Regions from separate parts of the Homo sapiens genome. Here region 2 is linked to region 1. Evidence: fine-mapped expression QTL. A gene starts in region 1. The other region holds a variant in brackets. All regions are shown on one strand. Distances are from middle to middle.

What was found. PIP is the estimated chance that this variant, and not a neighbour inherited with it, causes the effect.
Region 2: its variant is the best candidate, but not a certain one, in a credible set for the expression of MRPL23-AS1 in cerebellar hemisphere (GTEx, PIP 0.74).

What each region holds. Positions count from the first base shown.
Region 1 is chr11:1,987,231-1,992,593 of GRCh38, forward strand. MRPL23-AS1 (MRPL23 antisense RNA 1) reads right to left here and starts at 2,690. Exons shown (of 4, transcript NR_024471.1): 1 at 2,596-2,690. LINC01219 (long intergenic non-protein coding RNA 1219) reads left to right here and starts at 3,866. Exons shown (of 3, transcript NR_126400.1): 1 at 3,866-4,029; 2 at 4,708-5,050. It also overlaps a transcript of MRPL23 not described here. RefSeq lists enhancers at 1-4,579, 1-514, 509-4,579.
Region 2 is chr11:1,903,353-1,908,715 of GRCh38, forward strand. LINC01150 (long intergenic non-protein coding RNA 1150) reads left to right here. Exons shown (of 4, transcript NR_120534.1): 4 at 4,480-5,007. It also overlaps a transcript of PRR33 not described here. Among named protein-coding and RNA genes, the nearest start is that of LINC01150, 9.3 kb to the left of the region's middle. RefSeq lists enhancers at 3,135-3,636, 3,637-4,136. The variant T/C (reference allele first, on the strand shown) is at 3,207.

The sequences.
Region 1 (5,363 bases):
CTGGGCTGGGCTGGGGTGGGCAGGGCTGAGCTGGGCAGGGCAGGGCAGGGCTGGGCTGGGCAGGGCTGGGCAGGGCAGGGCAGGGCTGAGCTGGGTAGGGCAGGGATGAGCTGGGCTGGGCAGGGCTGGGAAGGTCAGGGCTGGGAAGGGCAGGGCAGGGCAGGGCAGGGCTGGGCTGGGCTGGGCTGGGCAGGGCAGGACAGGGCTGGGCTGGGTAGGGCAGGGATGAGCTGGGCTGGGCAGGGCTGGGAAGGGCAGGGCTGGGCTGGACTGGGCTGGACTGGGCAGGGCTGGGCAGGGCCGGGTGGAGTGGGCGATGGTGTCCATCCCGCTTAGTGGCTTCCTCTCACAGGAAGTCTGACCACCCTTCAATGCTGGGGGTCTAGGCTGGGCAGGTGGACGTGGGGGTCCATTTCTAGGCTCTAGACCCAAGGCCTTCCTGCTGCTCAGAGGTTCCTAGGCTCAGCAGAGAGGGCGGGGACAGAAGGTCCGAAATTCCATGTCCTTGGGATCCCATCTGCCCGTCCTTCCCGCCCAGCCCAGCCCAGTCTGTCTGCTCCCCAGCCTCCCACGCCCCCCATTGGCGTGCATGAGTGACATGCGTGTCCCGCACACCCTCGGTCCTGTTGTCCATCTCCCCCATCGCCCGCACACCCTCGGTCCTGTTGTCCATCTCCCCCATCGCCCGCACACCCTCGGTCCTGTTGTCCATCTCCCCCGTCGCCCGCCACCCACGCCGTCCCCACTGCCTTAGGCTGGCTGCCCCTTTGGACAGGGGCTTTGTCTACCCAAGTCACAGGACACGTGAAATTCAGCCTTAATTAAGTTGTTGGGTGATGGAGTCCCAGATGTGGGAGGCTCAGCCAGACCCTCTTGGGCTGCCCACCCGGAGAGCGACTGGGGCTGAGAGCCTCGCCTGGGGCCACTGTGCAGCTGCCGCCTCCCGCCTCCCACCTCCCGCAAAGGCCTGGGAGTGGGGCCCAAGGCAGCTGCAGCCCCACAGCCTGGCCTTGACCCTGGGCTGCCCCACAGCCCCCCTGCTGGCTCCGTGCCCACTGGGAAAACAAGCTCCTTATCTCGAATGCTTCCTGTGAACTGCAAACAGCCACGTGTCCCTTGGGAGCCACTCTTGATGAACGTGCCCTCTGTCCCACGACCCAGGGTGAGGCCGTTCACCCTCGGGCTGGGGGCCACCGGGACTGGAGGCTCTAGGCCTGGAATGAGGGGAGGGGACCTGCGGCAGGGCAGAGCCAGGCTGGAGACCACTGCATTGGGAGGGTGAGGAGGGAGAGGAGGGGGCAGGAGGGTTTGGGTCCAAGGCCTGGTTGCACAGGACAGCTGGGGATGGGGGAGAGGGGCACAGGCCAGAAAGGCTGGGGCTGCGGGGGCTAGCTAAGAGGCGAGGGTTCTGGGTGGCAGCAGCAGGCAGGGACCTTCCCGGCGGCCCCAGTGGCTCCCTCCCTCCCAGAACCCTTTCTCCTTCCTTGGGCCTAGAGCTTCCTCCACGTACTTTTCCCCGCCCCCGCCTTTCCCCTCTCTCTCACCCCGCTCAAACATGCTGTGACCTTTCCAGGGCCCCTGGACATCACTCACTGGGTGACAGAGGTTGACAGGCATGGAGCTAAGGAATGGGAGGCAGGGCGGGGGCGGCCAAGCCTCTCCAGCCGCTCCCTTCCCGCTTGCCCCACAGACGGGCCTCCCTGGATGGTCCTGGGTCAGCACACACGCTCCCAGGCGCTTCCTTCCCCAGGAGACAGTCCCCAGCCCCTGGCGGCCCAGATCCTCCTGCTCAGGCCGACGCATCCCACCTGGGCCCCAGAAACCTCTTTGGAAAGGGACAGTCACCTCAGAGTGGCAAGCACTTAAAAGAGACCCCCAACAGGCCGGTGTGTCGTGGTGGCAGGCAGGGTGTGTCTGGAGAGAAGGGGGACGTGTCCCCAGCTGGGCCTGGGGGCGGCTCCGTGGGAAAGTCCCACCTGGTCCCAGCCCCGGGTCTCCAGCCTTCAGACTCCTTGGGGGTCTCTGTGGCCTGGCAGAGGTCGGTGGCCCCTCAGTGGAGGTGAGGCCTCTCCTGGGTCACCACCGCACACCGGCCTGCTGGGAAGCTGGGGTTCTGGGCCACAGCCGGCCCTGGACGTGGAGGGGGGCATCAGGCCAGACCCCCCAGGGGCTCACAGGGCTCTGGGAGGCCCTGGCAACCCCAGGGTGCCCCCAAGCCCTCAGAAGGGTTGTCCCTACTTGGAGGGGACCACACAGCCAGGTGGGCAGGAACAGGCACCACGGCGGCCCTTCCCTGTCCACCCTCTCACCAGTGGCCCGCAGTGCAGTCCAGGAAGCACCGGACAGAGCACGGGGCAGGGAGGGGAGGCCCGTACTGGCTTCACAGAGGTCTGGGAGGGGCTAGCCCCTGTGCAGACAGACCCCTGAAGCCTAGAGCCGCCGGCCCAGCTGAGGTCCTTCCCAGGGGCCATTCTGGGACCCCTGACCCCATGCACCTGTGTCACAGGGCTATGAGCGCCCCCAGCCCCAGGACCTCCACGTTTCTCTCTAGAGGGAAGAGGAGGAGGACGGCAGGCCTGCTGGCCCCACACTTACTGGTTGGGGACGCTCAGAGGGGGCAGCCGCCATGCCGGGAAGTTAGGGTGGGCAGAGGAGCAGCGGTGCCAGGACCCCCAGGCCATGCTGCCACCCCGGACCCTGAACAGTGGGCTAGTGTGTGGGCCTGGGGAGTGAGGGCCCAGGCCGGGCTGGGTCTCGCTCCATAAACCCTGGCTGGCCGGAGCTGCAGACATCACTGTTGACACAGGGGTGATGTCACTGCCGGCCAATGGGGAGACCCTCGGGGGCCCTACGTGTGCCTCTCTGTGCTCCCAGGGCCCCCGCCACGCACGCCGCCTGCTCTGAATGCTGCCTGCATAAACCGGTTTTTCTAAATGTCTTTGGGGCCCTGCTTGCCCCCTGGGCCCCATCTCCTGCTCATCCCACCCCACCCTTGGGCCCAGCCTATGAGCCAAGCGGGAGTGGGGAGTGGCGGAGAGCCCTGGGCCTGCCCGCTCCCACAGGCATGTGGGCCCCAGAGCCCTGACCCCTGCACCTTCACCTCGCCAGCCTCTCTCCCATCTGCCACGACCCCAGCTGCCACCATGGCTCCCCACAGTCACCCCTGGGCCGTCTCTTCCTCCTGTCGGGAGAATGTTCCTCCTGGGAGAGCCTGAGGCCCCCTCTCTGCTCCTTGCTCCCCCGTCTGTCTCCCCTGCCCTGCCTTGCAGCCCTGCCCTGGGTCCATATGCTCAGAGCTGGCTACATATCCTGTGGCTGCCCATGACACATAGCTCCCCCAGGCAGGGCCGGACCCCGGGCACCTCTTTGCCTCCAGGGCCGGCCCCACTCTGTTGGAGGTCAGCCGGTTCCGAGGCCTCCAAGCCGCCTTTCTACTTCTCGATTCCAGGGCCTGGTCTCCACTCCCTCTGGGCTTTGGGGTGCATGCTGCAGTGCAGCCTCCCCGCGCCCCGGCCTCCATGCACCCTGCTCGTGCTGCCTCAGAGGCTTGGCATCTCCCCCATCTTCCAGCCAGGCAGCCAGTTTTCTGCAACGTGGGGCCCACGGTCAGCGTCCCCCACAGCCCTGCCAGCCCTTCTCCCCGGGGGTCCGCCCTGCACCCCCTTCCCAGGAGCTTGCTCTGCACCCACTGCTGGGCCTCCTGGCCTAGGGGCTTGGCACGTGCCTGTGAGCAGAGGCGCTGGGCAGGAGGAGGAGGAGGAGCCTGCAGTGCCTGGCGCCCGTGTGTGTTTACTGGTCCGGCCCCAGCCCCGCGCCGCTCCCCGCGGACCCGGCCTCCCGCCTGTGTCCAGCCAGGTGTTGGGTGATGGAGCGGGGCTCCCTAAGGACAAGGAGCACAGTGTCTGCTTTCTTTGCAAGCACAGTGCTGACAAGGAACAGAATACCCACAGCGACTGCTTCCAGGAAACGGCTGCAGGGCGGGCGGGAGCCTCTGCGAGAGCAGCCCCTTCCCAGCAAGCCGGCCTGCAGGTGGGCTTCCAGGAAGGGGCCCCCGCTGGCTTCCCTCAGCCCTGGAAGGGGGCCAACGGTGTCACCAGGAGCAGGCCAGGGAGCGGGGTAGAGGGGGGAGAAAGAGAAAGGAGAGGCGCGGAGGAGGGAAGGAGGGACGGGGCGCAGGCCTATGCTATGCCTAGTGTGGTTACCACAGCCTTAAGGGAGAGCAAGGCTGACCACAGCTCCTTCTCGAACCTTCCAATCCCCCTTTTGAGAAGTCACAAGATCTCCACTCAGGTCTTTGGCTCTCTGGGGCTTGTCAGGCATCACACACACACACACACACACACACACACACACACACACCCGTGCACACCCATCTGAAAACACAAGCAAGCTGGGCCACTGGGGGAGACCATTCCCTGAGACCCAGCCGGGGTCCAGGTTGAGGGGCTGACCTCCTGGCCCCCATGTTGGGAGGGCCGAGGAGGGCCCCCGCCCGGACCCACTGCGCCCTTGGCTCTGAGTGCTCAGATCCCACCCCCATCTCTAGAGAGGAGGAAATCATTTATCTTCCTGGGAGCTCGGGGTCGGGGAGAGGGGGCTGCCCTCCTTGAGTCCCCGACTGTTTTCTTTGAGACTTCCCAGGGTGCATTGTAGTCAGACCCAAAACATCGCTTTGTCCCTGTTGAAGGGACTTCACTTCCTTCGTAGAGTTGGGATTTTCTGTCTCCATTCGGTGGTATACCAAGTGCCTGCCTCCCACACCCAGCTGCCCCTAATCCCTGCCTGAAAACGTGCTCCTGGGTCACGGAATTCATGCTGAGACACAGCCACACACAGCCAGGCTCAGGGGTCCACCCTCCAGGGAACACCACCCCGCTACAGGGCCACGATCACACACACACCCCGCGGAGCATCTCCGGGCCGGACAGGACCCACGCCCTCCACAGCCCGGAAAGGCGGGTTAACTGGTCAGCATGCAGAGACCCACCAAGTGGAGACCCCGCTCCCAGGCACAGACGCACAGCTGTGGATGCACGTCCTCGGTGACAAGGTAGCTGAGGTCGCGTGCCCCGGGTGTGTACGGCCCACAGAGCCACAGGGGACTCGCCAGGAGATGCGTGCACCGAGGGTCCAGCGTGGCCACAGCAGCAGCACGCGCCTCAAGTCCTCTTCTCTAACTGGATGACTTGGTCTTCACTCAACCTAAACGTGCCGCAGAAACTTGGGTGGGTGGAGGGTCTGGGTGTGAAGACCTCGGTGCCTAACAGGGTCTGGGACGTGGCCAGAAGCCAGGGCACCCTCAGGGTCTCCCTGAACGGTGGAAGTTCCTCCCTCCCCAGATTTCCTGGCACCTTTGCAGGCAG
Region 2 (5,363 bases), 84 kb before region 1:
CCAGGCTGGTCTCAAACTCCAGGGCTTAAGCAATCTTCCCACCTTGGCCTCTCAAAGTGCTGGAATTACAGGCATGGGCCACCTTGCCAGGCCTCATTTGCCTTTTGTGCAGACACTTTTAAAAGAGGGAGTAAAAATACTGAAATCATTTTAGAAGCTTCTTCACATCAATTGGCATCCCTGATGAGGCTAATTAGGAGCCCTTGTTTTTAGGTGCACTTCTTAAAGTGCAGTGGTGTTCACTTGGAACATCCCACCGTAATTTTCATTCACCTTTAGTAAGATGCCACCATTTCTGTAAACATCTGCCGCGTCCGGGACCTAACACGTACGGACATACGAGCCAGAAGGTGCTCGGTTTTTCAGAGATGAAGGATCCCATTTTACATTAAATCTTGGCTTTGGCTCTTAGATCCTCGTGATCAACTGAGCAATGATTTTTCCCTGCCTTAGTGTGCAAGAAAAAGAAACCAAGAGAGTAGAACACGAACATCCTTGTGAATGTCCAAAAGCTGGAGTGTGCACCTCCTGCAGCCCTGCCATTTACAGCCAGTTTCCGCCTGACCCAGTCAAGACACACAAGGCCTCTAACTGCATCCAAGCCAGTGAATGATCAAATCAGATTCCATCCTGGACCCAGTCCAGTTTCTGTCACGACTTCTGAACCCAGCTTAGATAAAAAAATTTGCTCAAGCAAACTCAGATGGCTCAAAACACACATCCATGGAGCTTTGGAATCCAAGAGAGAACTTCCCACGATCCCCAGCTGCTCTGAGAGAGCAGAGGGCACAGTGGGCCCTGTGGGTCCTCCATTGGTCAGTCAGAGCTCCTGGGGGCCGCTGGAAGCTCTACGCCAGATCCACTTCTGATGCCATCCGTTTAAAGAGAAAACTTGGCCGGGCGCAGTGGCTCACGCCTGTAATCCCAGCACTTTGGGAGGCCGAGGCGGGTGGATTGCCTGAGCTCAGGAGTTCAAAACCAGCCTGGGCAACACGGTGAAACCCCGTCTCTACTAAAATACAAAAAATTAGCCAGGCATGGTGGTGCATGCCTGTAATCCCAGCTACTCCAGAGACTGAAGCAGGAGAATTGCTTGAACCTGGTAGGCGGAGGTTGCAGTGAGCAGAGGTGGCACCACTGCACTCCAGCCTGGGCGACAGAGCAAGACTCTATCTCAAAAAAGAAAAAAAAAAGAAGAAATTTAAGGCCAGGTGCAATGGCTTACATCTGTACACCTGTAATTTCAGCACTTTGGGAGGCTGAGGCAGGTGGATCACTTGAGGCCAGGAATTCGAGACCAGCGTGCCACCACACCCAGCTAATTTTTGCATTTTTAGTACAGATGGGGGTCTCACTATGTTGGGCAGGCTAGTCTCGAACTCCTGACCTCAGGTGATCCACCCACCTCAGCCTCCCAAAGTGCTGGGATTACAGGCGAGAGCCACTGCGCCCAGCCTCTTTATTCTTTTAATCTCTGCAGAACCTGTACTCCCGCTGCCTCTCTTGTTCCTGATATCGGTAATTTCTATCCTTCTCCTCCTTTCCCCGGGCCCTTCCCCATCAAGTTGGCTAAAGGTTTATCAGGATTACTGATATTCTTAAAGAACCAAGTTTTGGTTTTCTCAATTTTGTTCTATTATTTATTGTTTTCTGTTTTATCAGCTTCTACTTGATGTTTACTATTTCCTTTCTTCTGCCCACTTTGGGTTTAATTTGCTTTTCTTTTTCTATTTTCCTTAAGCTGAGAGCAAGGTCATTGCTTGAGAATTCTTTTTTTTTTTTTTTTTTTTTGGAGACCGAGTCTTGCTCTGTCACCCAGGCTGGAGTGCAGTGGCGCGATCTCAGCTCACTGCAACGTCTGTCTCCCAGGTTCAAGTAATTCTCCCTGACTCAGCCTCCCGAGTAGCTGGGATTACAGGCACACGCCACCACACCTAGCTAATTTTTAAATTTTAATAGAAACAGGTTTTCGCCATGTTGGCCAGGCTACTCTCGAACTCCTGACCTCAGGTGATCCGTCTGCCTCAGGCTCCCAAAGTGCTGGGATTACAGGCGTGAGCCACCGCGCCCGGCCTTCTCTCTTTTTTTTTTTTTTTTTTTTTCTGAGACAGAGTGTCGCTCTGTCGCCCAGGCTGGAGTACAGTGGCGTGATCTCAGCTCACTGCAACCTCCGCCTTCTGGGTTCAAACGATCCTCGTGCCTCAGCCTCTCTAGTAGCTGGGATTATAGGCGTGTGCCACCACGCCTGGCTAATTTTTGTATTTTTGGTAGAGACGGGGTTTCTACCAAACCCTGGTAGAAATGTTGCCCAGGGTGTTCTTGACCTCGTGGGCTCAAGCAATCCTACCACCTTGGGCTCCCAAGGTGCTGGGATTACAGGTGTGAGCCACCACACCTGGCCAGTTAAACCATATTTCTTACAGGCAGCACAGAGTTGGGCTTTGCTTTTTTATCAATCAGACAACCTCTGCTTTCTTTTTGTGGGGGGGACAGGGTCTCACTGGCATCCAGGCTCGAGTGTATTGGTGCAATCACAGCTCATGGCAGCCTTGACCTCCAGGGCTCAAGGGATCCACCTGCCTCAGCCTCCCGAGTAGCTGTGACTACTGGCACATGCCACCACGCCCAGCTAAAGTATTTTTTTTTTTTTTTTTGGAGAGATGAGTTCTCCCTCTGTTGCCCAGGCTGGTCTTGAACTCCTGGACTCAAGGGATCCTCCTCTACCAGCCTCTAAAAGTGCTGGGATTACAGGAGTGAGCCACCATGCATGGCCCCTCTGCTTCTTAATAGGGGAGTTTAGCCCATTGATATTTAATGTGCTTACTGGTATGGTTAGGTTAGAGTCTGTCACCTTGTTATTTGCTTTCTATTTGTCACATCTGTTCTTTTCTCCCCTTTACTCTTTTTCTGCCTCCTTTTGCGTTCATGAGAAGTTTTATTCGTTACATCATCTTGTTTGCTGGCTTTTTCGCTGTAACTCTTTGTTTTGTTATTTTAGGGGTTGACTTGGGTTTTTAGTTGTTAGCTTTAACGTCCCACAGTTGGCTCTGAGTGACTGATATTTCCTCTTTTTTATGGGTCACCCTTTCCTGCTTCTTTGTCTTTTTGATAATTTTTTATTGGAATGCAGACATTGTAAACTTTAACTCGGGTGGGAGCTAGATACTTTTATATTTCCACAAATATTCCTGAGCTTTGTTCTGGAA[T/C]GTAGCTGTTTATCTGCAAGCAGTTTGATCCTTTCAAGTATTACTTTTACCGTTTGTAAGGGAGGTCTGGAATAGTGTGGGCTAACTATTCCCCACTATGGAGGCAAGCTGTTTCTGAGCCCCCCACCGCTGTGCGTGATAGGGTTTTCTGCTGAGGCTGGTGGGAGCAGACACAATTCCTAGGTCCATGTGAGCTCCCGGCACTGGTCTCTCTAGTCCTTTCGGATTGTGCTTTCCCGCCTTGGGACGTTTTCCCTGGGATGTGCTGATGGCTCAGTCCCTAATACTCCAGGGGGACTCTCGGGTCTCAGCTTCTCTCTCTGGGCAGCTCTCTGAGCTTCACGAACTTCAGCTGCCTGGAGACCCCCAGCTCTGTCTCATCAGCTCAGGGACTCTGTGGGCTCCACCTCAACTCCCGCTTCCCGCACTGAGGCCTGGAAACCCACCAGAAAGTGCATGGGCAGCGAGAGGCCCCTGAGGCCAATTCCCAGCCCGGGAAGCACTGTTGTGCACGGCCCACGTGTGGGATCTTGAGAGCCATTGTGTTGTGTATTTTGTCTGTTCTGTGTTGCTGTTTGGTTGTTTCATTGTCCTGTGTATTTTGTCTGTTCTGTGTTGCTGTTTGGTTGTTTCAGGCAGGAAGATAAATCCAGTCCCTGCTACCCCATCTCAGCCAGGAGTGGAAATCTGCCTTTTAATTTTGGTGGACATGTTTGGATAGACAGAAACTTGAAATGGTGAAGTGGTGAAATGGGCTGAGCTGCCCTTTTCTTCCATCATGTTTCCACTGTTCTAAAGCTGGAAACATTGTTCCCCAGCATGAAAGCAGATAAGTGTGCAGCACACATCTCTCTAGCTTATTTATCTATTCGAGATGGAGTCTCGCTCTGTTGTCCAGGCTGGAGTGCAGTGGCGCAATCTTGGCTCACTGCAACCTCGGCCTCCAGGGTTCAAGTGATTCTCCTGCCTAAGCCTCCCCAGTAGTTGGGATTACAGACTCCCGCCACCATGCCCGGCTTATTTTTTTATATTTTTAGTAGAGACAGGGTTTTGCCATGTTGGCCAGGCACGTCTCGAACTCCTAACCTCAGGTGATCCAACCGCCCCGGCCTCCCAAAGTGCTGGGATAACAAGCGTGAGCCACCGCGCCCGGCCTCTAGCTTTATTTTTAACCATTTTTTTTTTCACATGTCGTAGCCTCTGTAATTCACCTGGAATGTATTTTGGCATTTGATGTGGAGAGCAAATCTCACTGCCTTTTTTTCCTCCCCAGTGCATACCTGATTTTCTCGACCTCTTTTATGAAATATCCCCGCCAGACTCCCTCGACCGTGCCACCCCCAGGTTCCCGTGCATACACAACATTGCGGGATAGGTATTGTGGAATGAGGATCCGTGTTACGACCTACAGAAGATGTGGCTGTGAAGTCAGGAGTCACGGTCTCAGAGTTGACTGCACTGCCTCGTAGCTGTGTGACCTTCAGGATTTTGTTCAACCCCCTCTGAGCTTCAGTTTGCTCTCTGGGAAGACTCCAAGGATAAGAGCATCTACCTCCTCAGCCTGCTGTGAGAGTTAACAGGGCCAGGGCCAAAGACGCTTTGTCTGACTGCTGGTCTGCGGGGAGCTCTAAATATGAATCTGCTACATCACCTTCACTTTTGAATTCGGCTCTGATGTTCCAAATGTTCTTGGCCGTTCCTTCGTGTTTCTCCTGTACGAATTTCAGCTTCTTTTTGCCAAGTATCTCCCCACCCCCGCCCACCCCCACCCCCAAATAAACTCACTAGAATGTTGGCTGAAAATCTGATAAGGCTACACATTGATTTGGAAAGAAATGATTTTTTGTGAGAGTCAAACTCCCTACCCATTTTTTTTCTTTTGTTTTTTCAAAAGTTTTTTTCTTACATTTGTCATTCAAGTTTGTCATTTTCTTGCTACAGATTCCAAACACTTTTCAAGAGGACCGTCGCTAAGTACTTTATACTCTTGTTTGGGTTTTTTTAGAGTAAAAAATGTTCAAATTCTACTTTATCTTCTAGCTGGTGGTTGTTGGAAGATAATTTTAAAAACTGATTTAAAATATGTATTTTGCATCTGGCCGCGTTCCTGAATTCTCTCATTCTTTCTGAAAACTCTTCCGCCGACTCTCTGGGGGC